4 linked regions of the Homo sapiens genome follow. The protein of the gene in region 2 purifies or fractionates together with the protein of the main gene of each other region. This does not show direct contact. Each region holds a gene or a part of one and is shown on either strand. Other genes may lie near its edges. The genes, in order: CSNK1D, AKAP9, PRKACA and CDK5RAP2.

Region 1 (7,406 bases), on a different chromosome or scaffold from region 2:
AAGTTCTGAGCCCACAGGGAGATGCCATGGCGAGTGGGGTTTTTTCGATTGTTGGGGGAGCTGAGAGGCCTGGCTCTGACCCCTTGTGGGGATGATGCTGTCATCCCATGAGGAGAAACGTGCAGCCTGTGGGGGGCTTTGCAGGCAGTCTCGTCCCAGTGCCCTTTGGTAGGTATTTTCTCACGTGGCCGGGGCAGCCTAGGACCTAGGGTTGCTTTCTGCCAAAGCTGGTTCCATTCCGGCCTCACCTCCTGCCTCCTCAGGGTGCCAGCCGGGCCGCCGATGACGCCGAGCGGGAGCGCAGGGACCGAGAGGAGCGGCTGAGACACTCGCGGAACCCGGCTACCCGCGGCCTCCCTTCCACAGCCTCCGGCCGCCTGCGGGGGACGCAGGAAGTGGCTCCCCCCACACCCCTCACCCCTACCTCACACACGGGTGAGTGCCCCCCTCCCAGCGCTCTGGGGCTGGCTCTGGGGTGACTTCTTGTGTCTTGGGGTTGGTGGGGACAACAGGGTACTTGGTGGTGGACACTAAGTGCCCTGTGTCAGGCGATGCTCGCTCCTGAGGGTGGATGAGCCAGGCTGCCCAGGCGCCTTTAGAAATGCCGGCACCTGCTGGTGTGCGTGATTCCTCCCGCATCTCACGTTCCTCCCCTGTGAGCCCCTTGACCTCGCTCCCATGTCCCTTTGTGTCCCTCCGGCCGGATCTGAGTGTTGGTGGCCATCGGCCACAGCCAGGTCCTGACTGTCCAGGCAGCCCAGGGTCCTCTCTGGCCACAGCCTCTCATAGAAAGCCCCGAGTGAGAGGCAGCAGACGGGGGCGGCCCACTCCGTTTCTCTCCCTGTCCTCAGCTAACACCTCCCCCCGGCCCGTCTCCGGCATGGAGAGAGAGCGGAAAGTGAGTATGCGGCTGCACCGCGGGGCCCCCGTCAACATCTCCTCGTCCGACCTCACAGGCCGACAAGATACCTCTCGCATGTCCACCTCACAGGTAGGTGCAGAGCTCCCGGGCGGGCGCTGGGCCTCGGGCTACCCCGTCCGAGTCAAGAGCGGGCTGTGGTTTCTCCAGGGCTTCTTCTTTCCTTTCTTCCCCCCATTTTTGAGAGTTTTTAATCTCGCCAGGGTGTGGCGTCTTGGTTGCAGATGAGGCTTCTCGGGAGGGCCTGGGAGACATGCTGGGCCGTCATGGGGCTTGTCTCCTGGTTGCAGGTGGCCAGTCTCAGGTCTCAGGTCCCTGAGGCCAGCAAACCGTGGGGGCTTTCTCCTGCTGTTTGAGTGCCCCGCTGCCCGCAGCCGTCCCCAGGCAGCTGACACCGCTCGCCTGCTTGCGCCCCATTGTGGGTGCCCCCAGCCCGAGGGAGCCTTCCTCATTCTTCCTCATTCTTGCCACTGGCCAGGGATGGAGGCCCGTAGGGACCTCCACGGGCTTCTTGTGAGACCCTCCCTGGTGGCATGCCCTGCAACGAGGCTTTCCTTCTTTTGACGGCCTCACCTGTCTTCCCTTGGACGAGAAGTACCCTGTTGCGCAGCCCAGGCCTAGCCACGGCCACCGCCTCTTCAGCATCCTGCAGCGGTCTCTCCTCTCCTCGCTCTGGCTTTTGTTGTCTTTTGCGTTTGCTAACGTGCTCTTTGAACTAGAACAGCTTTCTCCATATGGATCCATTATATTTCTTCAAATAGTTTTCTGGGTTGTTCGCCAACAGGGGCAGGGTTAGTGGGGCAGGGCTGTTTCACCAGCAGGCATCCTGGGGGGTGCCCAGATCCCCCACGGGTCTTCCGGATGAGCAGGAACTCAGTTCAGAAATGCCCTGGAGCCTGGCTCTGGGCTTGTGGGGAGGTGTTTGTTGGGATCACAGGATGGAGCCAGGCCTGCTGCCGTGAGCGGGGCTGGGTGTAGCTGGCTAGCCAGGAACATGCCGGAGTGGGGAGCACTCTTGACCACTTGCCGTCTTTTAATGATTGGGGTTTTACTGCACGTTTCTAATTCACTAATAATTTCACTAGAAACAGACCTTTTTGTATAACTTCTTCCCAAAGAGACCAAAGATGCAGGGATTTTGGCTTCGTGGTTATTTTGACTTTGTGGTTATATGAATTGGGCTCGAGGGGTCTGGGCTGCGTCACGAGAATGGGTCCCTTACGTGCACACAACCCTGCTGTCACCTCCAGACACAGCACAGAAAGGGTTTAACTGGCTTCTTTCCACGAGCCTGGCACTTGCGCATCAGTTCCTGTGAGCAGTTCCCGGGAGGGTCTGCCCGTGCCCTCGTGTCTTGATGTGCGGCTGGCTCTGTAGCCCCTGAACCATGGTACAGGAGCCCAGAGTGCTCCCCATGCTGGGTGCTGACCGGACTTGGACAGCCTCGCCCCAGCGCTTGGCTGACAAAGACTAGGGAAGGGGCCTGAGTGCTTTTTGTTTCTTTTAAAGAAAGTAAAGTGTCCAGTGGTTTGGGATCTTTGTGGGCAGTGAAGGTGTCCTGAGCGTGCTGAGTAGCCACAGCCCTGAGTCCAGCTGCCTTTTCTCGGTACACGGCCTTGGCGGCACCTGGGTGTGGCTGTTGTAGCCACCAGCCCCCAAGGTGGCCGTGAGCAGTGTCTCCTTCCATGGTGAGCTGTGGCAGGAACCCGCAGCTGGCTCTTAGGCCCTCGTTTTCCATATGAGGAAATACAACGTGGGCTCTAACAGCAGGGAGGAGTCTCCAGAGAGAGCTGGTTTGGGGGTGTGTTCTCTCCAAAAGAAGCCTCTTGGCCTCTGCTCCTGGACACCCTGGGGGGCCTTCCTGAGAGGCATGTTGAGGGCTCCCCACCTCCAGGGCGGGCCCCCTCCTTTGTCACCATCTCACAGGAAGGCTTTGGCCGTGTGTCCTTCCTGCCAGACTCTGCCAGCACCAGCACACGTGGTGGCTGTGAGCAGCAGCTCCCGTTTTGAATCCCAAGGGGGAATACAGGAGGCTCAATTGCTCTGAGCGCCTCACCTGTTTGCTCGGGTGAGCTGGAGACACAGTCACCGTGGGCAGTGACTCATCCCCGGCCAGTCTTCCTCCTCGGGCCGTCGCTCTTCCCTGTTCTTTCTGCTCCTCTCAGGAGACCTTGCGCCCTGTGGAGATGGGAGGAGGCAGCAGGAAGGTCTCCCAGGGCTTGCTGGCCGTGGCTGGGTGTGGATGGGTGGAAGACCACGTGGCAGCCTGCCTGTAGGTCACAGAGGCCCCCATAGTTGTAGGGCCCCGCCCCAGCCCGGACTCCGCCTGGGTCTGTTCCCTCTTCGCCCCCTCTCTTTTCGGGCTGTTGGTGTTCGGCCAGGGCTCTTTGGCTACAGTAGCCTGGGCCCTAAAGGCCATCTAGTTGCTGAGTCTGTTTGGGGTTTTTACTTGGTGAGAAGAAGGCCTTGTCATTCCAACAGTCGATGACTCGCTTTGATCAACTCCTGCCCAGGACTAGGCCTGAGCCCTGTCGTCGTACCGGCGAGGATGTGCGTCTCCCCTGCCTTCAGGCTGTGCCCTGAGACCCAGTTGTGGGGCTGCCCAGCACCTGCCATCCTGCTGGGATCAGGTTTTCTTAGTGCTTGAGAAGACTCAGGAGGGCCTGTCCCATGCCATTGTTGGCCTTAAGAGCAAGTGATTCCAGAAGAGGAGTGGGCACCACTCTCATCCAGAGGCCCGTCCTGAGAGGCAAGTGAGGCTGTGCTCTGTGCCTGGGCTCCCCCAGGTGGCACCTGTCGGTCTGTGGACCTGGTTGAGGCAAGGATGCCCATCTGGACATGGAGCCGACACAGGTAGTCAGGGGGCCAGCGGGACGCTTACCAACAGCTGTCTTTTCCCCACCTCAGAATAGCATTCCTTTCGAACACCACGGCAAGTAGCTGCTCGTCTCCCATCGGAAGGCAGCACTGGGTGAGTGTGCGCGTGGCGGGCGCCAGGCAGCAGCGCCAGGTGGGTGGGAGCCACCATGCCCCACCCATGGGAGCTTGCAGGTGGGCTGGGCTTGCATGCCAGGTGCTGGAGGTAGAGTGAGGCTTCTTCTGCTCTGTTCTTCTTGTGGGGTGCAGAGCGGCGGCAGTCCGCTGCCCAGTCTTGGGGGGAGGCTGTCCACAGAGAGCTTTGGAACAGAGTGACCCCAGGAGACCATCCTGTTGGCCTGTGGCCTCCCCGTGACTGCGTTCCGTGTGCCGTTGCTCTCCTCCTGTCCTGGGTGCCCACCCGTGAGGCAGGAGTGGCAAGGCGGGTGCCCCGAGCACTTGAGTTGCCTTGTCTGCGGTCGGCCGTGCCTGGAGGGGCGTCTGTGTCCTGCTCAGCTGGGTGGCTCCACGCTTGGTGTTGGGGGCTCCTAAGCTCTTGCTGCGCCACACTCTGGGCAGTCTCTGCCATGCCAGCTTTTCTAGTCGCCTCTCTCTTCCTGTCTCATTTATCTCTGTCCTTGTTTTGTGTTTCTTTTCACACTTGGTCTCTGCCCAGCCGTCTTGTCCACGCAGCTTCGTCTGTATTAACTCCTCCAGCCGCAGCCCACTCACTCCCCGCCGTCGGTGCATGGCCGGCGTCCACGCTGTGCTCCCTCCTCGGCGGCCACGCGCGCTCGGCGGCTCCTTCCAGCAGGGGCTTGCGCTTCTGTCGGGTCTGTGCCGCTGGGAGACCCGCTGCAGTTTTCACACTGTGCACACTCTGGAAATGTGTTGACAGGAACTGCTTTTCATGTCTTCCCTGAGAGGGGTACCCATTTTCAAACACCAGGTTCCTTTCCAGGAAGGGAGGCAGGAGCACCCGTCTCCGCTCCACTCGGATCCTTCGACCCTGCCGAGCCCGGCTCCGCGGGCACCTTGCTTGCATGCCTCTTCCTCCTTCCCGTCTTCCTGTCACTCGTTCTGCTGAGCACGTGTCCCAGCCACAGAGGCCCCTGTGCGTGGCGGGGGACGCAGGCGTCTAGACTGGGGCTAGGCGGTGGCGGTGCGTCCCCTCCCTGCCCAGCACCGTCACTGTGGTATCTGCCTGGCCGGCTCCCCCAGCCCCATGCTGACCTTCTCCTGTGCTTTGGCTCCGACAGATTCCTGGTCGGGTGGCTTCCAGTGGTCTTCAGTCTGTCGTGCACCGATGAGAACTCTCCTTATTGCTGTGAAGGGCAGACAATGCATGGCTGATCTACTCTGTTACCAATGGCTTTACTAGTGACACGTCCCCCGGTCTAGGATCGAAATGTTAACACCGGGAGCTCTCCAGGCCACTCACCCAGCGACGCTCGTGGGGGAAACATACTAAACGGACAGACTCCAAGAGCTGCCACCGCTGGGGCTGCACTGCGGCCCCCCACGTGAACTCGGTTGTAACGGGGCTGGGAAGAAAAGCAGAGAGAGAATTGCAGAGAATCAGACTCCTTTTCCAGGGCCTCAGCTCCCTCCAGTGGTGGCCGCCCTGTACTCCCTGACGATTCCACTGTAACTACCAATCTTCTACTTGGTTAAGACAGTTTTGTATCATTTTGCTAAAAATTATTGGCTTAAATCTGTGTAAAGAAAATCTGTCTTTTTATTGTTTCTTGTCTGTTTTTGCAGTCTTACAAAAAAAATGTTGACTAAGGAATTCTGAGACAGGCTGGCTTGGAGTTAGTGTATGAGGTGGAGTCGGGCAGGGAGAAGGTGCAGGTGGATCTCAAGGGTGTGTGCTGTGTTTGTTTTGCAGTGTTTTATTGTCCGCTTTGGAGAGGAGATTTCTCATCAAAAGTCCGTGGTGTGTGTGTGTGCCCGTGTGTGGTGGGACCTCTTCAACCTGATTTTGGCGTCTCACCCTCCCTCCTCCCGTAATTGACATGCCTGCTGTCAGGAACTCTTGAGGCCCTCGGAGAGCAGTTAGGGACCGCAGGCTGCCGCGGGGCAGGGGTGCAGTGGGTGTTACCAGGCAAAGCACTGCGCGCTTCTTCCCCAGGAGGTGGGCAGGCAGCTGAGAGCTTGGAAGCAGAGGCTTTGAGACCCTAGCAGGACAATTGGGAGTCCCAGGATTCAAGGTGGAAGATGCGTTTCTGGTCCCTTGGGAGAGGACTGTGAACCGAGAGGTGGTTACTGTAGTGTTTGTTGCCTTGCTGCCTTTGCACTCAGTCCATTTTCTCAGCACTCAATGCTCCTGTGCGGATTGGCACTCCGTCTGTATGAATGCCTGTGCTTAAAACCAGGAGCGGGGCTGTCCTTGCCACGTGCCAAGACTAGCTCAGAAAAGCCGGCAGGCCAGAAGGACCCACCCTGAGGTGCCAAGGAGCAGGTGACTCTCCCAACCGGACCCAGAACCTTCACGGCCAGAAAGTAGAGTCTGCGCTGTGACCTTCTGTTGGGCGCGTGTCTGTTGGTCAGAAGTGAAGCAGCGTGCGTGGGGCCGAGTCCCACCAGAAGGCAGGTGGCCTCCGTGAGCTGGTGCTGCCCCAGGCTCCATGCTGCTGTGCCCTGAGGTTCCCAGGATGCCTTCTCGCCTCTCACTCCGCAGCACTTGGGCGGTAGCCAGTGGCCATGTGCTCCCAACCCCAATGCGCAGGGCAGTCTGTGTTCGTGGGCACTTCGGCTGGACCCCATCACGATGGACGATGTTCCCTTTGGACTCTAGGGCTTCGAAGGTGTGCACCTTGGTTCTCCCTTCTCCTCCCCAGAGTTCCCCGGATGCCATAACTGGCTGGCGTCCCAGAACACAGTTGTTCACCCCCCCACCAGCTGGCTGGCCGTCTGCCTGAGCCCATGGATGCTTTCTCAATCCTAGGCTGGTTACTGTGTAAGCGTTTTGGAGTACGGGGCCTTGAGCGGGTGGGAGCTGTGTGTTGAAGTACAGAGGGAGGTTGGGGTGGGTCAGAGCCGAGTTAAGAGATTTTCTTTGTTGCTGGACCCCTTCTTGAAGGTAGACGTCCCCCACCCGGAGAGACGTCGCGCTGTGGCCTGAAGTGGCGCAAGCTTGCTTTGTAAATATCTGTGGTCCCGATGTAGTGCCCAGAACGTTTGTGCGAGGCAGCTCTGCGCCCGGGTTCCAGCCCGAGCCTCGCCGGGTCGCGTCTTCGGAGTGCTTGTGACAGTCCTTGCCCAGTATCTAGTCCCCGTCGCCCCGTGCAGGAGACGTAGGTAGGACGTCGTGTCAGCTGTGCACTGACGGCCAGTCTCCGAGCTGTGCGTTTGTATCGCCACTGTATTTGTGTACTTTAACAATCGTGTAAATAATAAATTCATAATGACTTCTACCTTTCTTCCCTCCCCTTTCCATGTGGTCTTTATTTCATCAGCTTGAGAGTTTTCACTGTGTTGAGGTGAACTGTGTGAAAATACTTCTTTGAGATGGCTGTTTGTTCTTTCTCAGCCTGTGGGTGTCTGGGAGCTGGCAGAGCAGGAGAGCTGCCCCCTGGGCCTGCTGCCGGGCAGGGAGGGGTGGCGACTGCTCCTCGCCGTGCTGCCC
Region 2 (7,406 bases):
ATGCGTTCATGTCATTTGCAGGGACATAGATGAAGCTGGAAACCATCATTCTCAGCGGACTAACACAAGAACAGAAAACCAAACACTGCATGTTCTCACTCATAAGTGGGAGTTAAACAATGAGAACACATGGACACAGGGAGGGGAACATCACACACTGGGGCCTGTCGGGGGTGAGGTGCTAGGGGAGGGACAGCTTTAGGAGAAATACCTAATGTAGATGACGGGTTGATGGGTGCAGCAAACCACCATGGCACGTGTATACCTGTGTAACAAACCTGCACATCCTGCACGTGTATCCCAGAACTTAAAGTATAACAAAAGAAAAAAAAGGAATATTGTACTAGGAGTTTAAAACTTGCCTTGATAATACACCTACTTAGAAAGATCAAGTGCCTTAATGAGTTGCATTTTGGTTTGTCATCTACAAAATGAATTAAACTGATTTTTTTTTTTTAAAAAACCACACAATGTTGAAAAACACATATTATAAAAACCAAATACCTCTTTACTTCTCAGACACTGTATCACTGCCTTCAAGGTACCACATTCCTCTTTCAGTAACTGAACGGCAACATAGTGTTCCCTCTTTAAGGTTTCAGTTTCTGAAATATGTCTGGATTCCATGTCCAAAATTTCAGCAGCATGTAGTTCTTGCATCTTCTCAATTTTTTCAGTAAACTGACTGATTATTTCAGTAACTTCTTCTGAGGAACATTCACTCTGTAAATTAATTTGTATTCCTGCATTTTTAACAAGAATTTGTGGAGTCTGATTGCTGCTACTGATCTTCAGAGTCCCATCTGTCTGGGATGCAATGCTCTTACTCAGTTTTATAGGAAGTGGCTCAAACATGCAGGCCTTTTTGCTTTCTTGTACCTCAGTCTCATCTTCTTTTTCTAAAATGGACAATTTCTCTTTTGCCTCTGCGAGGTGATCCCTAACTTGGCTTAAGTCTTTCTGAAGAGATGTCATATTTGTTTCTTTTACCTAAAACGTAATGAATAGAACAGTAGGGCATTCAGTTAAAATCTTCCCATATTAAATGTAGAATTTAAAGGGTGTGGGAGGAATGTAATTCATGATTATACGTTCATTTTCCTCAGAGTAGTAGGAAAAACATTTCAGAAACGCTCACAGTTTACATATATATATTTGTATGTACGTATGGTCATAGATTACTATAGAAATGAAATAATTTTATTAGCTTCTATTTTTGGTTCTCATGGGATATACAGTTCTCTTTAACAACTTTCTACTCCTTCATTAACAGAATGGAAATAAAAAGTATCCTCCTAAGAAAGATTTCCAGGAAAACCAAGCAAGAAGATGTTGGTAAAGAAATTTATAACAATGAAAGTTTTCATCAAATCCACAAAATACTTTTTATCTAGCTTTTAAGTTATGGAGCTCATTTGTTATAAAAGAGTATATACTTTGAAACGTAATTAAGATAGGTAGAAATGAGTGAATTAGGAGCTATGTTACTTATCTTACCAAAAGCTCTTCTTGAAGTTTTTCAGCCTTTTCTTTATAACTGGCAAGTTCTGCTTTGGTAGCCACTGATTCAGCTCTAAGAGCCTCGAGTTCATTAAAAAATCCACTTTCTTCATTGCTATGAAATAGCTCAGTAGTTGTCTGAATGACAGCGGAAACACAAGAAACACATAATTTAAAAAAAATATAGCTAAATTCAAGGCTCTTATACATTCTAATAAAACCATCCAAGGAATGACTGCCTACAGATATAAGGAGTTGGAACAAATCAATGCTCTTTCCAAAAACAGAGAAGCTTTTTCAGAACCATCATCTTATATTCTTGAGACAATGATTTTCTTCTTGAGAAAAGAATGATTTTCTGGGAATAAAAGGTAAGTAATGTTATTCATATACATCCTAAAATGGAAAGTTACATTACTATTTTAGGCCAGGCACGGTGGCTCACGCCTGTAATCCCAGCACTTTGAGAGGCTGAGACAGGTAGATCATTTGAGGCCAGGAGTTTGAGGCCAGTCTGGGCAACGTGGCGAAACCCTGTCTCTACAAAAAATACAAAAATTAGCCAGGTGTTGTGGTGCACACCTGTAGTCCCAGCTGCTCAGGAGGGAGAGGTTGCAATGAGCCAAGACTGCGCCACTAAACTTCAGCCTGGGCAACAAAGCAAGACTCTGTGTCCAGGAAAAAAAGAAAGTTATATTACTATTTTAATTATCTATAACTTAAGTAACTTAGTTCCAATGAAGGAGGAAAAAGCCAGGGAATTATTATTCTTTGCAAAATATATAATTATAGAATTGTGATTTATCAGTTAATCTTCTGGTGTTTGGAGAAGACTGAAGTTCAGCTACTCAAAGTTATAAATTTATAAGGTGAGAATTTGGAGGAAAAAAAAGCTCTTGTCCTATCTGTCATATGCTAAGAAATAACTGCGATTTCAGATCTTCTCATAAGTAAACTTACAGAGGTCAACTACGCATTTTTACTTAAAACAGATGAAATCTATTATCAGGTATAAAATTTGTAAAAGCTGGCCAGGCGCAGTGGCTAACACCTGTAATCCTAGCACTTTGGGAGGCCAAGGCAGGCGGATCACTTGAGGTCAGGAGTTTGAGACCAGCTTGGCTAACATGGAGAAACCTCGTCTCTACTAAAAAAAAAAAAATATATATATATATATATATATATAAATTAGCCGGGTGTGGTGGTGCGTGTCTGTAATCCCAGCCGCCTGGGAGGCCGAGGCAGGAGAATTGCTGGAAACCCAGGAGGTGGAGGCTGCAGTGAGCTGAGATCACACCACTGAACTCCAGCCTGGGCGACAGAGCGAGACTCTGTCTCAAGAAAAAAAAAAAATTGTAAAATATGTCACCCACACATTAATTAATTCAGTAGATGCTATTAAATAATAGATTTCTTTCTGTAAAGTCTGCATTCTTTGTCAATCCTAACATATTTTCATACTTATTATTACTTAAAAGGAATGATAACATAACATGCATATTAGAAGCAAATTAAGAAAAAAATCCCCATAAATCCTAGAGAACATTTGCTAAAATTAATGTTTCTTAGTTTCTTCTGACTGCTCCATTTAATGATGATGTTAATGAAATAAATATCATATTTAAAGACCATAAAATACAGTCTGTATCCATTATTTTAGTGATAATAATATGACTACACAGTGTTAAGTTAAATTTGGCCTGAGGCTGTCTCTGTATCTTGAGTTCCTATGTAAGGAACTACAATCTAACTTAGGAGTACGTAAGCAAACTGAAAACGTATCTTAGGAGTATAATAAACAGCCAACTCTTAGCTAATGACAAGCAGTCAACTGAGCAGACTGGGTCCAAATAAGGCAAACACCTAACTGTAACTAATCAAGCTATTTCTGTATTTTATTTGGTAGTTCTGTCTATAAATATTCACTGGCCACTGTTGCACAAAAGAGATTTGTGAAACTCCTCTGGTTCTGAATGCTACCCAATACGTGAATCCTTTTTTGTTCAAATAAACTCTCGTAAATTTAGTTTGTCTAGTTTTTCTTCTTCTTTTTTTTTTTTGAGATGGAGTCTCGCTCTGTCACCCAGGTTGGAGTGTGCAGTGGCGCGATCTTGGCTCACTGCAAGCTCTGCCTCCCGGGTTCACAGCATTCTCCTGCCTCAGCCTCCCGAGTAGCTGGGACTACAGGCACCCACCACCACGCCCGGATAATTTTTTGTATTTTTAGTAGAGACGGGGTTTCACCGTGTTAGACAGGATGGTCTCGATCTCCTGACCTCAAGATCCACCCGCCTCGGCCTCCCAAAGTGCTGGGATTACAGGCGTGGGCCACCGCGCCTGTCCTAGTTTTTCTTTTAACAAGAGTTTATTTTTTATAAGTGGTATATTTTTATAAAAACCTTCTTGTATAAATTGTTAGATGTAAACAGAACACCATATTTAGTAAATTAGCAATCAGCTTAGTTTCTTGGGGTATTTAAATGAAACTAATAAAATACAAAACTAACCTTGAGAACTTCAACATCTTGAGGGCTTCTTTTCTTTTCTTTCTCTCTCTGTTTTTTCTCATTGCCCTCCAATAGCTTCTGTAGTTCTAGCAGCTTCTTTTCTTTTTCTAAAACATTTTTTTCTGCAATTTCTACTTGTTCTTTTTCTAAAATCAAACTAGTATGCATTTCAACAACCTGGCTTTCTAATTCTGATATTCTCAAGGTTAATGCTGATATATCTGACCCCAACTCATCTTCTCTTAGTTGATTTAAATTCTGAATATTTGTTCTTTCAGGTTCTGATGAAATTGTTTGATTATCTTGACAGAATTTTGCATATTCCTGAACTGCCTCAAGTTGGATTTGACTGACAAGAGCAGCAGCCACTTTTTCTTCAACTATTTTCTGTAGGTTTACAATCTTCTTTTGAAGCATTTCTGTTTCAAACTGGCCTTGTTCTTGCATGTCTTTTATTTGTTTATAACACTGGGTAAGTTCTAAGTCCTTTGCACTAACAGTGCTCTCAAGTTGTAGCAACCTTGTTTCCAAATTAATTATGGAACCTTTGCCATTTTCTTCAAAAGATTTGAAGTATGTCTGATTTTCTAGGGATTTAAGAGCATCCTCTGTAAGGACTACTTCTAGTTCAGGTTTGTCTTTGCTCAGATGATCTATAGCCACGTTAACACTATTCTCTGGTATGCTTTGAATCTTTTCCACACTTTCACGTTCTCTCTTTAAGCTGAATAATTCCTGTGTTAGCTGATTCATTTTAAAATTGGTTTCTTTAAGTACATTTTTCATGAAGGTCATTTCTTCATTAGCGGTTTCTACTTGCTGTTCCAAGGCCAGCTTTTCAGCTATAACCACATCCAATTGATGTTTTAAACTGTCTGCTTCTTCTGAGAGGGAATGAGCATTCATTGATGTCTTCTGTCCAATATTTGCCAATTCCTGTTGAAGTTTTTCAATCACTTCATTGAGCTGCTCTATTTCTTCTTCTCTATTTCTCTTCACACATTCTTGATCACTCATCAAACATTCTATTTGGGTTTCAAGATCCCTTATCAGTTCATTTTTTTCTTCAATAACCTAATAATTAATGAAAAAGGTAACATACATAATATATATGTATTTACATTTTGAAAATTTTACTTTATTTTAGGGCAGTACCTCAAAGAGATGATCACACACAAAAATAATACACTACTTCTCAGACATACTACTTAATTTCATTATAGACCAATATCTCCCCCATCATATCAAACAAGGCTCAGAAAGTTCTGTTAAGTATAAAGTAATATAAGCTTTTAGTTGCTGATTCCCTATTAGGAAAATAGTCAATATCAATACTTCTTAATGGAAAAGGATGAAGTACGGAAATAAAGTCTACAACCGATGGCACCAAAGGTAATTACCTTACTTAACTCATATTAAATATTATAATTTATAATAGATTTGGTTAGAATAACATGATAAAATCTAAGTCACAGAGCCTTTCTGAAAAACATTAGAATCCTATGACAATATTAGGAGGGGAGAAAAATACATATAAATTATTAAACCAATGTGTCTTTGCTTTTTTTTTTTTTTCTTTTTGAGACAGGGTCTCACTCTGTCACCCAAGCTGGAGTGCAGTGGCATGATGAGGCTCACTGCAGCTGGGACTACAGGTGGTATGCCACCATGTCCAGTTAATTTTTATATTTTTTGTAGAGACAAAGTTTCACCATGTTGCCCAGGCTGGTCTTGAACTCCTGGGCCCAAGCAATCCGCCCACCTAGGCTTCCTAAAGTATAAGGATTACAGGTGTGAGCCTCTGTGCCTGGCCACCAATGTGTCTTAATAAATTAAAATTAATAAAAGAGAATTGGGCCAGGCGTGGTGGCTCATGCCAGTAATACCAGCACTTTGGGAGGCTGAGGTGGGTGGATCACCTGACATCAGGAGATAGAGACCAGCCTGGTCAACATGGTGAAACCCCATCTCTATTAAAAATACAAAAAATTAGCCAGGTGTGATGGTGGGTGCCTGTAATCCCAGCTACTCGGGAGGCTGAGGCAGGAGAATCACTTGAACCTAGGAGGTGGAGGTTGCAGTGAGCCGAGGTTGCACCATTGGACTCCAGCCTGGGCGACAGAGCGAGATTCTGTCTCAAAAAAAATAAATAAAATAAAATAAAATAAAATAAAATTGGTTTGTTTTTTAAATTCAATGGGGAGCAACATTATAACCATTTTGCCCTTTAAAACTCTGGTTCATATTAATTTCATAATCAATTTTAAATGAGTATACCTTGTTATCTGTTGTAATTTTAAGTTGCTGCTGGAGTTTCGTAACTTGTTCATTTAATTGGTCAATTTCTACCTCTTTTTCCTGTATTATTTGAGCAAATTTCCCAAATAGCACATGTTGGTCTTGAGTAGACATGGCATCAGATTCCTTTATGGCAAGTCCCAGTTTCTCCATGTCATCCTAGGAACAAAAATAATTATCACAGTTGGATATATCATTACCTATCATTTTCAGAACATAATTACAAAAGAAATCAGAGCCTATAACGTACAAATGAATAAAATCAGAGACACCATATGGTTACTGTAAATCAATAATTCTAAAATATTTTGATAAATGATCCCAAAATTTTCATTTATGATGAATTCAAATGTTCAGGTTGGGCTGAAAATAAGCTGTATGCAAATGTGTCTGCCTGTTAATGTTCCTCTGTTGAGTATTATTTAACAGCTGGATTTATCGAATGCTTAATAAAGCAATATAGGGGCCAGGTGTGGTGGCTCACGCCTGTAATCCCAGCACTTTGGGAGGCCAAGACAGGCGGATCACGAGGTCAGGAGATCGAGAGCATCCTGGCTAACACGGTGAAACCCCATCTCTACTAAAAATACAAAAATTAGCCAGGCGTGGTGGTACGTGCCTATAGTCCCAGCTACTCGGGAGGCTGAGGCAGAATTGCTTGAACCAGGGAGGCGGAGCTTGCAATGAGCCGAGATCACACCATTGCACTCCAGCCTGGGCAACAGAGTGAGACTAAGTCTCAAAAAAAAAAAAAAAAAGAAAGAAATAATAATAATAATAATAATAAAGCAATATAGGACTGAAACTATGACTTATTTACAGATAAAAGTTTTTCTTAACTAATTACCTTAAATAATTTGTTTTCCTGTTCAAGTTCTTGTAGGCGGGTAGTAGATTCCTTTTTCTGTATTTCTAATTGCATATGTAATTGTTGAACTTCTTCATTCTTATTTTCCAGTTCTTCTCTAAACTGTTCTAATTGCTCTTCTAAGTTTGTAATCTTTAATAACAAAATTATCAAAAGAGAAAAAATGTTTATACAAACGTTTATCAAGATAAAATGAAGAGTGCTATATTAGCTTTACAAAGTATGCATGCTTA
Region 3 (7,000 bases), on a different chromosome or scaffold from region 2:
TTTGGCTGTTCCTCTGGCCCCTTCTCTGGGGAGGCCGGGCCTGGGATGGAGGCCTCGGGGGCTCGGGTAGCAGGTGCCCTTGGGGGGCTCAGCTGTCACCTTGGCCCCCAGCTGGCCCTGTTCCTCTCCGTGGCAATCGCAAGGGCATTGCTCCAGAGCTGGTTCAAGGGAAGTCTCGCCCGATGCCCACTCCTCGGCCCCATGGTATCCCAAGGTGAACATCACCGCCTGGCTAATGTTGAAACTTCCCCGGCAGACCCTGTGCCGGCTGCTGTCTACACTGTCTCATCTGACTCACTCGGCAACCTGCCTTGTATCCATTGTCTCCACTTAACAACCCAGGAAACAGGCTTGAAAACAGTCATTCTCGTCTCTGCTGAGACACAGCCCAGCAAAGTGGCTAAGGGCCAGGACTTGGGGTCAAGATCCAGTTCAGAGCCCAGCCTGGTCTCTGATGAACTCTGTGACTTTGGGTAACTGATCTCACCTCTCTAGGCCTCAGTTTTCCTCATCTGTAAAGTGGGGTGGTTTTGAGGAATGAATGAGTTCATCTTGACAAAGGGAGTTGAACAGTGGCCCCGTGTGATGATAGTGCCAGATAAATGTCAGCTATTATTATTTTTTATTTATCTATCTATTGACTGATTGATTGATTGATTGATTGAGACGGAGTCTCCCTCTGTCGCCCAGGCTGGAATGCAGTGGCGCAATCTCCGCTCACTGCAAGCTCCGCCTCCCGTGCTCACGCCATTCTCCTGCCTCAGCCTCCTGAGTAGCTGGGACTACAGACGCCTGCCACCACGCCCAGAGAATTTTTTGTATTTTTTTTAGTGGAGACGGGGTTTCACCGTGTTAGCCAGGATGGTCTCGATCTCCTGACCTCGTGATCCACCCGCCTCGGCCTCCCAAAGTGCTGGGATTACAGGCGTGAGCCACCATGCCCGGCCAATTTATTTTTTTTAATTATTATTATTTTTTTTTTTGAGATGGAGTCCCACTTTGTTGCCCAGGCTGGAGTGCAGTGGCACAATCTCAGCTCACTGCAACCTCCGCCTCCCAGGTTCAGATGATTCTCCTGCCTCAGCCTCCTGAGTAGCTGGGATTACAGACACCTGCCACCACGCCCAGCTAATTTTGGTATGTTTAGTAGAGACAGGGTTTTGCCATGTTGGCTAGGCTGGTCTCGAACTCCTGACCTCAGGTGATCTGCCCACCTTGGCCTCCCAAAGTGCTGGGATTACAGGCATGAGCCACCGTGCCCAGCCTATTATTTTCTAAATTGAGGTATAAAATATGGGGAGAGAGGCTGGGTGAGGTGGCTGACGTCTGTAATCCCAGCACTCTGGGAGGCCAAGGTGGGTGGATCACAAGGTCAGGAGTTCGAGACCAGCCTGGCCAACATGGCGAAACCCCATCTCTACTAAAAATAAAAAAATGAGGCCAGGCACGGTGGGTCACACCTATAATCCCAGCACTTTGGGAGGCCAAGGCGGGTAGATCACTTGAGGTCAGGAGTTCAAGACCAGCGTGGTCAACATGGTAAAACCCCGTTTCTACTAAAAGTACAAAAAAATCAGCCGGGCATGGTGGCAGGAGAATCGCTTCGACCCGGGAGGCAGAAGTTGCAGTGAGCTGAGATCATGCCATTGCACTCCAGCCTAGGCGACGGGGCGAGACTCTGTCTCCAAAACAAAACAAAAAAATTAGCCAGGCGTGGTGGTGATGTGTGCCTGTAATCCTAGCTACCTGGGAGGCTGAGGCAGGAGAATTGCTTGAATCCGGGAGACTGAGGTTGCAGTGAGCCGAGATTGCACCACTGCACTCCAGCCTGGGTGACAGAGCAAGACTCGTCTAAGAAAAAAAAAAGAAAAAAGAAAAGAAAATATGGGGAGCGATCGGGCATGGTGGCTCACGTCTATAATCCCAGCACTTTGGGAGGCCGAGGCAGGCAGATCACTTGAGGTCAGGAGTTTGAAACCAGCCTGGCCAACATGGTGAAACCCCGTCTCTACTAAAAATACAAAAATTAGCTGGGCACGGTGGCGCATGCCTGTAATCCCAGCTATTTGGGAGGCTGGGGCAGGAAAATCTCTTGAACTTGGGAGGCAGAGGTTACAGTGAGCTGAGATCATGCCACTGCACTCCAGCCTAGGCGACAGAGTGAGACTCTGTCTCAAAAAAAAAAAAAAAAAAAAAAAAAAAAATATATATATATATATATATATATATATATATATACACACACACACACACACACATAGGGAGAGCCGGGAACGGTGGCTCATGCCTGTAATCCCAGTGCTTTAGAAGGCCGAGGTTGGAGGATCGCTTGAGGCCTGGAATTAGAGACCAGCCTTGGCAACATAGCAAGACCCAATCTCTACAAAAAATAAAACAATTAAAAAATTAGCTGAGCATAGTGGCCCATGCCCGCAGTTTCAGCTAAGCAGGAGGCTGAGGCAGGAAGATTGCTTAAAGCCCAGGAGATTGAGGTTGCAGTGAGCTATGATCACACCACTACACTCCAGCCTGAGCAAGAGTGAGACTCTTTCTCAAAAAAATAATAATACTCTGGGAGGCCGAGTTGGGGGGATTGCTTGAATACAGGAATTCGAGACCAGCCTGGACAACATCAAAACCCTCTACAAAAAATAAAAACATTAGCCAGGTGTGGTGGTATGCACCTGTAGTCCCAGCTACTCAGGAGGCAGAGGTGGGAGGATTGTTCAAGCCCGGGACATAGAGCCTGCAGTGAGCCGTGACTGAGCCATTACACTGCAGGCTGGGTGACAGAGTGAGGCCCTGTCTCAAAAAAAAAAGTAATAATAAAAAAACCCCAAAAACAAATATAGGAGATACACTGAGTGCTCAAATCTTAAATGCGCAGCCTGACAGATTCTTGCATTATGGACTTGTCCTTTTAACCACCACCTAGGGCTACAAGGGACCAGCCCCTTGCTGAGTATTTTCTATGCTTCGTTCTCACCCTGTGGGGTGGGAGCTGCTGTTATTCCCACTGTACAGAGGAGAAGACTGATCAGGTCTGAGGTCACTTGCCTGCCCCCACATCCCATGAGATTAACTACTTCACTGCCAACTCAGCCATTGGTTTCAGTGCTGAGTCCAGTGCACCAGGGTGGCCAATGTGGACAGAGCTGCCTTCAACCCCCTGATGTTCCTGGGTTTGCTGCCACCGAGGGGCCCTGTACACTTGCCCTTTGGCATTGCTGGTTATCTGCCTGCCAGTAATCCCACATGGCCTTGTGGGGAGCCACCCCCACTACCTGTCTCCAGAGCTTTCCCTCAGCATTCAGAGAGAAGAGCCCTCATGGAGCTAGAAAGTGGTAGATGGTGGCTGGGTGCAGTGGCTCACGCCTGTAATCCCAGCACTTTGGGAGGCTGAGACAGGCAGATCACCTGAGGTTGGGAGTTTGAGACCAGCCTGACCAACATGGAGAAACCCTGTCTCTACTAAAAATACAAAATTAGCTGGGCGTGGTGGCACATGCCTGTAATCCCAGCTACTCAGGAGGCTGAGGCAGGAGAATTGCTTGAACCCGGGAGGCAGAGGTTGCAGTGGGCTCAGATCGCGCCATTGCACTCCAGCCTGGACAACAAGAGTGAAACTCTGTCTCAAAAAAAAAAAAAAGAAAGTGGTAGATGGCAGATGGAGAGAGACCGTGGCCAAGAAGGCCCCACAATAAATGACCAGGCGGAGAGGGGATAGGCAATGAATGGCCAGGAGTCCTAGATGGGTGCCTGGCTGGGCCACCAACTAGCCCAGGGGCCTGAGCCTGGGGGTCACACCAAATCCAACACTTTCACTAGCAGAACCTTTGTTTGAGTGTTTTATTTTGTTTTGAGATGGGGTCTTGCTATGTTGCCCAGGCTGGTCTCCAACTTCTGGCCTCAATGGATTCCCCCACCTTAGTCTCCCAAAGTGCTGGGATTACGGGCATGAGCCACTGTGCCTGGCTTCAGTCATAGAACCTTTGTGACAGAAAACATCTTCCTTGGAAACCTCCAAATAATCCACACAGAATTCAGCAGTGGGTGGGGAGGGTGGAGGGTGCCCTCTTGGGATTCTACCTTCACCCACACAAGAAGGCAGAGAGGTGCCAGGCTTGAAGGGAATCCAAAAGGTCTGGTCCGTTTTCCCTTTGCTCTTAGCAAAAAGGAAAGAATTGCTGAATCCTGCACCTCCCCGACTCGCTGAGCTCCCAGCCCCTGGCTGTCCGCTGGTGCCCCACAGAGTCGCTCCACAGGGTGCCTTGCTGTTAGCATGGCCCTTCTCTGGCCTCTCAAAGGACCAGAGCGCCCAGGCTCTGTCCCCTCTGGTGCCACTAGCCCTGTTAGCTTGTCAGATTTGGGGATGGGGCATGGGGGAGGCCAGTGCCAGGAGGAGCAGGCAGAGAGAGGGATGATGGGGGGGAGGGGCAGGTAACCTCAATCAAGAGGCCCCACACTCACCTCTGCTTCCTGTCTCTTCCAGGAAAGGGTAGAATAAAGGGTGGGTGGGATGGGGTGATCTGGCGGCCTTCTGCCCCCTGGCCAGGGAGGCTCAGGGTGCTGGCTGTGGCTTAGGCCCCCGGAAGGTGCGGTGCAGGTAGCCCAGGAAACGTACAGCCAGGTGGGCCCAGAGGAGCAGCTGCAGCCACAGCTGGAAGGTGGTCTCCAAGTCCCCACCCTGGCTGCTGCCTGATCCCAGATCCATCCCCAGCCCCCTTGGGCTCTCCCTGGAATCTTCCTTTTGCTGAGAAACCAGGAAAACGCAGAGCCTCTAAGTCAGCTTCCTTGGGATGGCCTCAGGGGACCAGGGAGGAGGAGCTGGTTGCCACAGAAGCTTTTAAAGGTACCTGCTCCAAGCTAGCCAAGGTTTGCAGAGGGCTCCCTTGGCAGGAGGCAATGGGAAGATTCTCCCGAGGGTGTCCCTCTGGCTGGCCTGCGTGCCCCAGGGCGGGGCGATAAAACTAACTTCCCTTTCCACGGACTTCACTGCTCCCAGGACGCCAGGCCCTGCCTTCCTCAGTGGGCACTGGACTGTGCAGAGGACAGCGCCTGATGTGCCCAGAGCAGTGCCCACTGGGCAGAGGGGAAAGAGTTAAGGTTCAGGATCAGGCAACAGCCAGAGACTCCTTAGGGGCTAAAGAGGCCCCAGAGCTCCCTTAATTCGCTGAAAGAACAGCTGGAGAGAAAGGCTTGGGGCGGGGGGCGACAAGAGCCACCCTGCCTCCTCCCCTGAACTCCCTTTCAATGTGGAACCCCCAAATCCTGCTATCCTGAGAGAGAAAATGGGTATATCTGACTCTTTTGTTTTGCTCCTATGCGGGGGTGGAGAGGGGAAAGGCATCCCGGGATGTCCTTGGCCTCTCTCAAACCTTGCCCTGTGCTTGGCTCTACTCTCGGCCATGAAAGTCCAAACCGGAAACGAGCGGCTAAACCCAGGGGTGGGGGAGGGGGAGGCAGCCTTGACCATCTTCCTCCTTCTTTCCAGATCCCAAAAGAAGCAGAGGGTCAGTGGCAGCCTCTTTGAGTGTGCCCGGCATCCAGGACCCCTGCTAGCAACAGGAAGTGGCAGAGGATGGTAACCCAGCCAGCTGCTGGCCTGTACAGCCTGCCGCCCTGCCCACATCTCCCACACGGGGGGTGCCAGCTCTCACTCTGGTCCAGATTCCATTTGGGTTCATAGGGAAAACTCCTTGACACCCCTTGAAAAGCCAGGACCACAGCAGAAAGCAGAAATCTAGAAACTCGCCCTGGGAATGGGGAATTGCAACAGCAGAATATCAATTTGGGCAAGGGGCTTGGGGTCTCTCTCGGAAGGAGCCCAGCCACAGAACCCCCTTCCTCCGGACAACAATCTCAGACCTTCTGCCCTTTTGAAATCTGGCTGTCCTGGGAATTCTGGGGCAGGAATGCCCAGCCTGGGCTGGGCCCCCTACTCGAGGCTGGCTGATTCCTCCAGTGGAGCCTGGATTCCCTGCTCTGGGCTTACCTAAATGACACAACTCTGAGCTGGACCCCAACACTGGCTGGAACGACCCCCATTCTGAGCTGGACCCCAACACTGGGATGGCTCATCCTACAGTCTGAGCTGAACCCCAACACTGGGATGGACCACTCCACCACCCCTCTCTGAGCTGGCCCCCTGCCGGGTGGACCATCCTCCCTTGTCTGAACTGGGCCACCGATCCCCTCTCTCTTCCCCAGGCCGCACAGCCCGGGGCTGTACAGGAGGCGTTTCCAGGGCCAGCCAGGGGTTCACATCCTTCTTCTCTTCGCCTGTGCCCCAGACCCCGCTGCAGCCCCTCCCTGACTTAAGGGGCAGAGTGTGCCTAGGAAGTTGCTATAGTAACAGGACTCAGCCTCACCATCGCTGGAGTTGGAAGCCATCACTCAGTCCTGTTCTCAGGGCACCGGCACTACGGTGGCTGGGAAGGCTCATGAGACCTGCCGTGTCTGTTCGGCTGTCTGTCCCCAGAACCCTGCCTGCAGGGGGAGCTAGGGAGCCGTGGGGTGGGAGCAGGAAGAGAAACCCAACCCAGAGGCCACTGGGTGTGGAGGAGGGACAGATAGGGCCCTCCGAGTTTCTGTAGACGCGGTTGCGCTAAGGGGAGAGCTGCCTTGATAAGACCTCTTGGGCACCCATACAACTGCCAAGGCACAGAAGGTGTTTGGCCGTCTTAGGCATCCATAGGATGTTACACGGCACTAGTTCTTCCCATCTAGGGTCTTCTTGGGGGGTGCTTTTCTCTCTTTGCCAGGATCTGCTTGTGTCCTGGGGATCGGGGGCTCCCTTTTACTAGCTCTGCCCCTTCCCCTGTGGGCCAGCTCCCAGGGGTATCTTCAGCCAGTGCCAGCCACGACCTGAGCCCCACTTGGCTGTCTGACCTGGGCGCCTGCCCCCTGGGGCCGCTGCTCCCTCTCCATTCTTCCAACTTGGCCAGAGCCTGGGCCTTAGTCTTTTTTCTTGGCCCTCTCAGCTCTCCCAATGGCTTTG
Region 4 (8,164 bases), on a different chromosome or scaffold from region 2:
ACAGGCTGGGCGCAATGGCACATACCTATAATCCCAGCACTCTGGGAGGCCGAGGCAGGCACAACACTTGAGGCCAGGAGTTCAAGACCAGCCTGGTCAACCTGGTGAAACCCCGTCTCTACCAAAAATACAAAAATTAGCCAGGCGTAGTGGGGCATGCCTGTAGTCCCGGCCACTAAGTGGCTGAACCATGAGAATTGCTTGAACTCTGGAGGCGGAGGTTGCAGTGAGCCAAGATCACTCCACTGCACTCCAGCCTGGGCAACAAAGCGAGACCCTGTCTCAAAAAAAAAAAAAAAAAATCATAGAGACAGAAAGTAGAATGGTGATTGTCAGAGGCTGGGAGAAGGGGGGAATAGGGAGTTACTGTTTTAACAGGGACACAGTTTCTGTTTTGCAAGATGGAGAGTTACGAAGATAGATAGTGGTGACCGTTGAGCAATAATACAAATATATTTAATACAACTGAACCATGCTTTAAAATGGTTAAGATGGAATGTATGCAGTATCTACGTCCTGCAAAGGCAGGGAGATGAGGGAAAGGAGAATATTTGCTGATCTGTTGAGTAGTTACTCTGGGTCAGACACTGAGCTAAACTTTTTAAGATTCATTTTAATCCTTATGCCAACCCTAGGCTTTATACCAACCCCTTTTACAGATGATAAACACTGAGGCTCACAGATGATGAGTGACTTGCCCCAGATCAAGGGGTTGTTAAGTAGCAGAACTGGGATTAAAACCCAGCTAGGCCTGGGACCCCAAAACCCAAGTGTCTGGCCAAAAAGCACTGAAATAAGAATGGCTATCTGAGAGAATAATAATGGAAGTTATGATAACAGCAATAAGCAGCATTAAAAGTATAAAGCAGCAGACTGTGAAGAGCAGATTTATATTTAAAAAATAGTTCTCACGCCGGGCGCGGTGGCTCACGCCTGTAATCCCAGAACTTTGGGAGGCCAAGGAGAGCAGATCATGAGATCAGGAGATGGAGACCATCCTGGCCAACATGGTGAAATCCCGTCTCTACTAAAATACAAAAATTAGCCACGCACGGTGGTGCACTCCTGTAATCCCAGCTACTCCGGAGGCTCAGGCAGGAGAATTGCTTGAACCCGGGAGGCGGAGGTTGAAGTGAGCCGAGATCGCGCCACTGCACTCCAGCCTGGTCACAAAGCAAGACTCCGTCTCAAAAAAATAAATAAATAAAAAATAGTTTTCAAATTGTAGTATAAAAAACTATTAGAGGTGCAAAGGACAATACAAGAGAGAAGCCATACTCCCAATATATTGGGGCAGTGGATGTAAAATAGATAGAAAAGGGCATGATGAAATATCACAGGACCCAATTAGACAGGAACTGCAAAGCATCTTAGTCTGTGCCTCATACATGAAGGTTCTCAATAAACAGAAAAACCATTTGTCCAGGTTTACCCAAGATAGGCCCTCTTTATGTCTGCTGCCCGGGCATAAATATTAATTATTTTCACTTTCCTTTTTTTTTTTTTTAAAGATAGAGTCTCACTTTGTCACCCAGGCTACAGTGCAGTGGCATGAACACAGCTCACTGCAGCATCAACCTTCCGGGCTCATGCAATCCTCCTGCCTCAGCCTCCCGAGCGGCTGGGACTACAAGTGCATGCCACCACGCCTGGCTAATCTTTGTAGTTTTTGTAGAGATAGGATTTCACCATGTTGCCCAGGCTGATCTCACACTCCTGAGCTCAAGAAATCGGCCCACCTCGGCCTCCCCAAGGGCTAGGATTACACAGGTGAGCCACCGCACCTGGCTCTTTTCACTCTTAAGTGTCCCAGTTAGCACAATAAATAACATGGTCACCCTTTCAATTAGGATCTGTTGACTAAAAGCAGCAGCTTGTCCATAGTAGAGCTGGATAAACAGTGCAGGTTCTCCGTCAGGGCTCTCCTCCTCTTCCCTCTACTCACTCTCCAACCAGGAGTCTAGGACAACCACAGGGGCCAGCCGTGGAGCAGAGTTGCGCTCTGTTAGGCCTTCCTACCAGACCCCAGCTCCACCAGCAATGGGGACTCCCACAGTCTCTTGGGGCAGGTCCATGGGAGGCCACTCTTGGCCATTATTCCCTGATTCATATCACCTTTGATGACAGTAGTAATAATGACACTAATGGCAACACAAGATCATTTTTTAAGCACTGATTATGTGGCAGGCACTACACCTGCCAAGCAAATGGCTCGACAGGCATCACCTCTTTTAATCCTCACCCCAACTCTGTTGGGTGGATATTACTAGCCCATTTTACAGATGGGAAAGCCGGTGAAATCACTTTACCAAGGTCACACAGCTAGTCAGTTTACAGGGCTGGATTTGAATCCAGTTTTGTCCAACTCTAGCCAAGGTTCTTAATCATTGCACTCCATTGCCTCCTGGGTGGCCACTATGTGACCCAAAAAGCAAAGTCTGGGCATACCGGCTACACTCTCTCCATAATGAAAACAAACTCTCAAACCAGAAGGAACCATCAGGTGCCCTCAAGGTCCCTGTTCTCCACCAATCCCCACTAACGGGATACTCCAAGTGGCCCCACCCTCGTCCTACTCTTTCAGAAAACTCCTTACCTGTTCTTCACACGCTCTACAAAGTACATGGCGCAATGCTACTGGCAATTGTGGTGCAGGTCGCGGCTCCCAGCCCTCCAGAGTGTCAGGTGGTGGGCCCCCCAGAGACCCTCTCCGAAGGAACCCACCCCACACACTGCCCCTGGCCAGACACCCTCAAGAGCAAACCCCAAGGCCGCGTTAGAACGAAATCCCACCAGCTGGAACCCCGGCCCGGTTACCACGACCACCAATGCCCCGGCCGCACCTGCAGCCGCTGAGCGTCCCAGGGACGGTGACGTCCTCTTCCAACACCAAGTCCATCATGGCTACAGAGGTGGCGACAGCGTTGGTGTCTGTGGCGGCGGCGCCACTAGTACCCCCCGCGATAGCGACCCGCCGGGCTCCCCAGGTCCCCGCCCCCTCCACCCCAGCTCTTGTTCAGACTCTGGCGGCGCCGCTGGAATTCAAACCACAGACGCCGCCATCTTTCCCGGCGCTTCTTCCTACGGAAACGAGGCGGGGTCACGGAGGCGCACGCAGTGAAGCCGACCGGCTGGCGCCAGAGGACGGGCAGGGAAGCGGGGATAGGTGCCATCTTAACTAAGGGCAAAGCATCCGTGCTTAAGCCAAGCAAAAATAAGAGACAAAAAAAGGCCGGCTGCCATTTTTTGTGAGGGCACTTAGGGAGAGGCGAGGGCGGGTGCCATCTTTGTTGAGGGCCAAAGCGGGCCCTAGTCCGTTAATTTACGCGGGAGATGGAAATGAATACAGCCACTCAGGAATCCTCAAAGTTCCTAACCTCGTGTTTGCTTTTCTAGAATAATGACCCCAAAACTTTGGGATTTGACCTTAAGTTGAAACTCAGATAACTGAGTGCTGCCTTGCTTTGGAAAAATACTACGTGCGGAATCTCAAGGCAAACAGTAATTTGCAGACTTAGTTTGAAGCAAATAACTCATTCCCATGAGCCAGTGGTCAACAGCACTCCCACTCCAGTCTCTCACCTATTGGTCTTTTATTACCATTAGGACTCAAAGGCACCTGTGGTCAGAAAACTGAGGGCCAGCAAGAGGAAAGGACTCTCCCAAAGTAATTAAGTATTGACAATGTCTTTCAACTGGAGTGGGGGTCTGCAGCTCCTGCCAACTAGATGAGGGCTCTCTGCATAACCCTGGCTGCCTTTCTTTTTTTTTTTTTTTGAAATGGTGCCTCTGTCGCCAGGCTGGAGTGCAGTGGCCCGATCTCAGCTCACTGCAACCTTCACCTTCTGGGTTTAAGCGATTCTTCTGCCTCGGCCTTGCGCCACCACACCCGGGTAATTTTTGTATGTTTAGTAGAGACGGGGTTTCACCATGTTGGCCAGGATGGTCTCAATCTCCTGACCTCGTGATCTGCCCACCCCGGCCTTCCAAACTGCTGGGATTACAGGCGTGAGCCACAGCACCGGCCCCTTGGCTGCCTTTCTTAAAGCACATAGCAATCACCAAACACTTAGATAATCTTGGCAGAGCTTAAGCAATGAAATTAACCTTCCCCTCCTCAACTCAGTGTTGCTCCTTCCTCTGCAGGCCCTTGTGAGAGAGCCCGATGAAAATAACTTGAAATGGTTGGTGAGTGGATAGATAGTGACTTTCCCAGTAATCTTGAACAATTCCCCTTTCACCCTGTTTCCTCATTCTTTTTTTTTTTTTTTTAAATAGAGACAGGGTCTCACTATGTTGCCCAGGCTGGTCTTGAACTCCTGGCCTCAAGCAATCCTCCCACCTTGGCCTCCCAAAGTGCTGGGGTTATAGGCCTGAGCCACTGCACCAGGCCCTCATTCTTCAGTTAAGTAATTAACCAATTATTGATACTTTTCAAAAGAAGCCTTCCCTAGTCATTTAATCTAAATCAAGCCACTTCTTGTATTCCTAGCAATGCAAATTATTCCTTTGTGGCACTTACCATATTTTGCAATTTGTGTGTGTGTGTGTGTGTGTAAAATCATTTTTTAAATGTCTTTCCTTGCACTAGACTGGAAGCTGCATGGGGCAGGGACTATATTCTGAATTGTTCACTGCTATATCCTCAACACCTAGCACTATGTCTGCCACTCAGCAGCTATTTGAAAATGTATGTTAAATGAATGAGTGATTCAATCAATCAGTCTGGAAATAAGGCCAATACCTATCCTGCAAGGTTTTTGTGAGAATAATCAGAGATACTTTTAGGACCTCTGTCAATAGTAATTCTGTGTATCCCAGATTCATATTCATTCTCTCTCTTTCTCTCTCTCTCTCTGTCTCTCTCTCAGCTTTAGTTAGGCTTCCAAAGCCCGCGATTATTTGCCTGTCCCCCTTCTTTCTCTAGATCTTCAACCACACCCACAATTAGCAATGATAAAAGCATGAAAAAGAGGGAAAGCTTAGCACACCTGGTGCACTGCCTCAGGAACGGGGCAGTCCTTGAAGCCCAGGAACCAATACTCCTTGCCAGTAAGTTCAACCCATGAGATAGGTGTGTCCAAAAGCAGGGAAGTTGGGGTGTCAGGATTCCCACCCTGGCTCTGCCACCAACTCTGTGATCTTTGGCAGATCACCTTTTTTTTTTTTTTTGAGATGGAGTTTTGCTCTTGTTGCCCAGGCTGGAGTGCAATGGCACGATCTCGGTTCACCACAACCTCTGCCTCCCGGGTTCAAGCGATTCTCCTGCCTCAGCCTCCCAAGTGGCTGGAATTATAGGCATGCACTGCCACGTCCGGCTAGTTTTGTATTTTTAGTAGAGGCAGGGTTTGTCCATCTTGGTCAGGTTGGTCTCGAACTCCTGACCTCAGGTGATCCACCCACCTCAGCCTCCCAAAGTGCTGGGATTACAGGCATGAGCCACCCCACCCGGCCTGGCCAATCACTTCTCTGTGGACCTCAGCTTCTACATCTGTTAAATGAGAGGGCTGAACCTCTCAGGGTCTCTCAGGATGTTACAGCTCTGGAGGTGATTTCTACATTTCTTTTTTTTTTTTTTTTTAAGATGGAGTCTTGCTCTGTTGCCCAGGCTGGAATACAGTGACGCGATCTCAGCTCACTGCAACCTCCTGGATTCAAGCGATTCTCCCACCTCAGCCTCCCAAGTAGCTGGGATTACAGGCACCTGCCACCACGCCCAGCTAATTTTCGTATTTTTAGTAGAGACGGGGTTTCACCATGTTGGCCAGGCTGGCCTCGAACTCCTGACCTCAGGTGATCCACCCACCTCGGCCTCCCAAAGTGCTGGGATTACAGGTGTGAGCCACTGTGCCTGGCTTCTGTGTTTATTTCAAAGCTACTAACATACAACCAACTCTCTCCTGGGGAGGGAGGCTAACACTTCCCACATGAAAGAACTAACTTTGCATCTCCAGCCAATGAAAACTCTTGAGAATATAAACAAGGAAGAGAACTTATACATTTTGAGCATGTCTTATACGTCACTTGTTCCAGGCATATTACATGCACCACCTCATTTAACCCTCCCAACAACCTTCTGCAGGAGGCGCTACTATCTGACTTACAATTGAGAAGACTGAGGCTGCAAAAGGTAAAAACTACTTACTGAAGGTCCTACAGCTGGTAAGTGCCAGAGCTGGAATTGAGACCAGGGCCCTTTGAATTCCAACACCTTGATTGTTTCAGGCAACCTGTCATCCCCATTTGGGTTTCTCTTTTGCTTTAGAATTTAGTACTAAGAGGCAAGGTCTACATCCAGACGACAGTATTTAAGGGTTGTGTTCACCAGACTCTACTCCTTGGGAAACTGCTTCAAAGTGGCTAAGAGGTGAATCTTAGTGTGGGCAGTTTACAGAACTGGAAGTCTGGACACCTGGATTCTGACTCTGGAAACTCCTCCCATTTATCCTGTGACCTGGGGTTCCTTCCCCTTGCTACACTTCGATTTTCATGTGTAAAATGGGGAGGACAATGCTGAGTTCACATGGTTGCCTCATCTAATTGAATACCTTAGACATTATTGAAGATGAAAGAACCTGTGAGGAGTTGGGTTGTTTTTTTAACTTATTTAATTTTTTTTTTGGACACAGGGTCTTGCTTTGTCAACCAGGCTGGAGTACAATAAGAGTGATCATAGCTCACTGCAGCCTCCACCTTCCAGGCTCAGGTGATCCTCCCACCTCAGCCTCCCGAGTAGCTGGGACCACAAGCAGGTGCCACCATGCCGGACTAATTTGTTTATTTTTAGTAGAGATGGGGTCTTGGTATGTTGCCCAGGCTGGTCTCGAACTCTTGGGCTCAAATGATCCTCCCACCTCAGCGTCAGAAAGTACTGGGGTTATAGACATGAGCCATCACGCCCAGCCTAGGATCTCTCATTATGATTAGTCCATTGCCTTGTTCAGCATGACCATGTCCCTGGGTTGCGTGCTAAACCCTTTAGTGAACCTAGAAACTGAAAATAGAATCAATTGCACAAAGGAAAGGCTATTTGGAAGTTGGTTTTCCTGCTACTGTAGTGGTTTCATGTTCAGAGACAGAGGCCTTTGTCCTGTCTCTGTCTCACCATGATCTTTCTGCCAAACCTAGAGGTGACGTCACTACCACCAGCTGTTTGGGCTATCTGGGGCTATCTCCTTGACAACAGCCACCCAACCACAAAGCTGGCATTATTATTTCCTCAGACAAGGTCATATCAAATGGCTGGGAGGAAGTAGCTTGCAGTCAGATGTTTTTCATTTGGGTAGAACCCTCCTGAAGCTTTAACAGATCAAGACATTTGCACTGCCATTACTAACAGCAAAAATAACTTTTTATAGGATCAATATATACGCAATGCTACTACTTTGCACTCTTCCGTTTTATCCTCATGATGCTGTGAAGTGAATTGGGTTGATCGCCCTACTCTACAGAAGAAGAAACTAAAGGCTCAGAGAGGGGAAGAGATTTCCCAAAGGTCACACTTTTTTTTCTTTCCTTCTTTCTTAGTTTTTTATTTAGAAATAATTTCAAACTTAGAAAAAAGTTGCAAAAATAGTACAAAGAATTTCTAAAATATTAACATCTTCCACAACCATAGCACAATTGTCAAAAATAAGAAATTACATTGATACAATATGACTTATTACAGATCTTATTTAAATTTAATCTTTTCCCATTAATTCCCTTTTGCTGGTCCAGGATCCAATCCAATATTCCACACTGCATTTACTTGTTACATCTCCTTACTCTCCTCCAGTCTCTGACAGTTCTGTCTTTCATGGCAATGACACGCTTTGTTTTTGTTTTTGTTTTTGTTTTTGAGACACAGTCTCACTCTGTCACCCAGGCTGGGGTCCAGTGGCACTGCAACCTCCGCCTCCCGGGTTCAAGCAATTCTCCTGCCTCAGCCTCCCAAGTAGCTGGGACTACAGGCGCACACAACCACACCCAGCTAATTTTTGTAATTTTAGTAGAGACAGGGTTTCACCATGTTGGCCAGGATGGTCTCAATCTCTTGACCTCGTGATCTGCCCACCTCGGCCTCCCAAAGTGCTGGGATTACAGGCATGAGCCACTGCGCCTGGCCCAAGCTGCCCTTCTAAACCATGGCCGTGCTGAGATTCAAACCCATGCCTGTCTGGTC

The links.
Region 1: the proteins of AKAP9 (region 2) and CSNK1D purify together in Homo sapiens (affinity purification with mass spectrometry; 5 studies listed by BioGRID and IntAct, with this or other methods). This does not show direct contact.
Region 3: the proteins of AKAP9 (region 2) and PRKACA purify together in Homo sapiens (affinity purification with mass spectrometry; 7 studies listed by BioGRID and IntAct, with this or other methods). This does not show direct contact.
Region 4: the proteins of AKAP9 (region 2) and CDK5RAP2 purify together in Homo sapiens (affinity purification with western blotting; 4 studies listed by BioGRID and IntAct, with this or other methods). This does not show direct contact.

Annotation. Positions count from the first base shown.
Region 1 is NC_000017.11:82,242,460-82,249,865, reverse strand, and holds the end of CSNK1D (casein kinase I isoform delta), read left to right. Parts: exon of another isoform or gene 1-168; intron 169-263; coding exon 264-435; intron 436-851; coding exon 852-991; coding exon of another isoform or gene 992-1,147; exon of another isoform or gene 1,148-3,394; intron 3,395-3,400; coding exon of another isoform or gene 3,401-3,502; exon of another isoform or gene 3,503-3,668; intron 3,669-3,826; coding exon of another isoform or gene 3,827-3,859; exon of another isoform or gene 3,860-3,890; intron 3,891-5,034; coding exon 5,035-5,085; 3' UTR 5,086-7,199; downstream 7,200-7,406. UniProt on the Homo sapiens protein: Essential serine/threonine-protein kinase that regulates diverse cellular growth and survival processes including Wnt signaling, DNA repair and circadian rhythms. It can phosphorylate a large number of proteins.
Region 2 is NC_000007.14:92,076,754-92,084,159, reverse strand, and holds part of AKAP9 (A-kinase anchor protein 9), read right to left. Parts: intron 7,306-7,406; coding exon 7,153-7,305; intron 6,465-7,152; coding exon 6,285-6,464; intron 5,082-6,284; coding exon 4,008-5,081; intron 1,639-4,007; coding exon 1,498-1,638; intron 991-1,497; coding exon 505-990; intron 1-504. UniProt on the Homo sapiens protein: Scaffolding protein that assembles several protein kinases and phosphatases on the centrosome and Golgi apparatus. Required to maintain the integrity of the Golgi apparatus. Required for microtubule nucleation at the cis-side of the Golgi apparatus.
Region 3 is NC_000019.10:14,107,763-14,114,762, forward strand, and holds part of PRKACA (cAMP-dependent protein kinase catalytic subunit alpha), read right to left. Parts: intron 6,430-7,000; exon of another isoform or gene 6,394-6,429; coding exon of another isoform or gene 6,372-6,393; intron 4,715-6,371; coding exon of another isoform or gene 4,562-4,714; intron 629-4,561; exon of another isoform or gene 223-628; coding exon of another isoform or gene 1-222. Other genes in the region: SMIM46 (small integral membrane protein 46), read right to left, coding at 4,562-4,714.
Region 4 is NC_000009.12:120,577,077-120,585,240, forward strand, and holds the start of CDK5RAP2 (CDK5 regulatory subunit-associated protein 2), read right to left. Parts: upstream 3,092-8,164; 5' UTR 2,903-3,091; coding exon 2,844-2,902; intron 1-2,843. UniProt on the Homo sapiens protein: Potential regulator of CDK5 activity via its interaction with CDK5R1. Negative regulator of centriole disengagement (licensing) which maintains centriole engagement and cohesion. Involved in regulation of mitotic spindle orientation.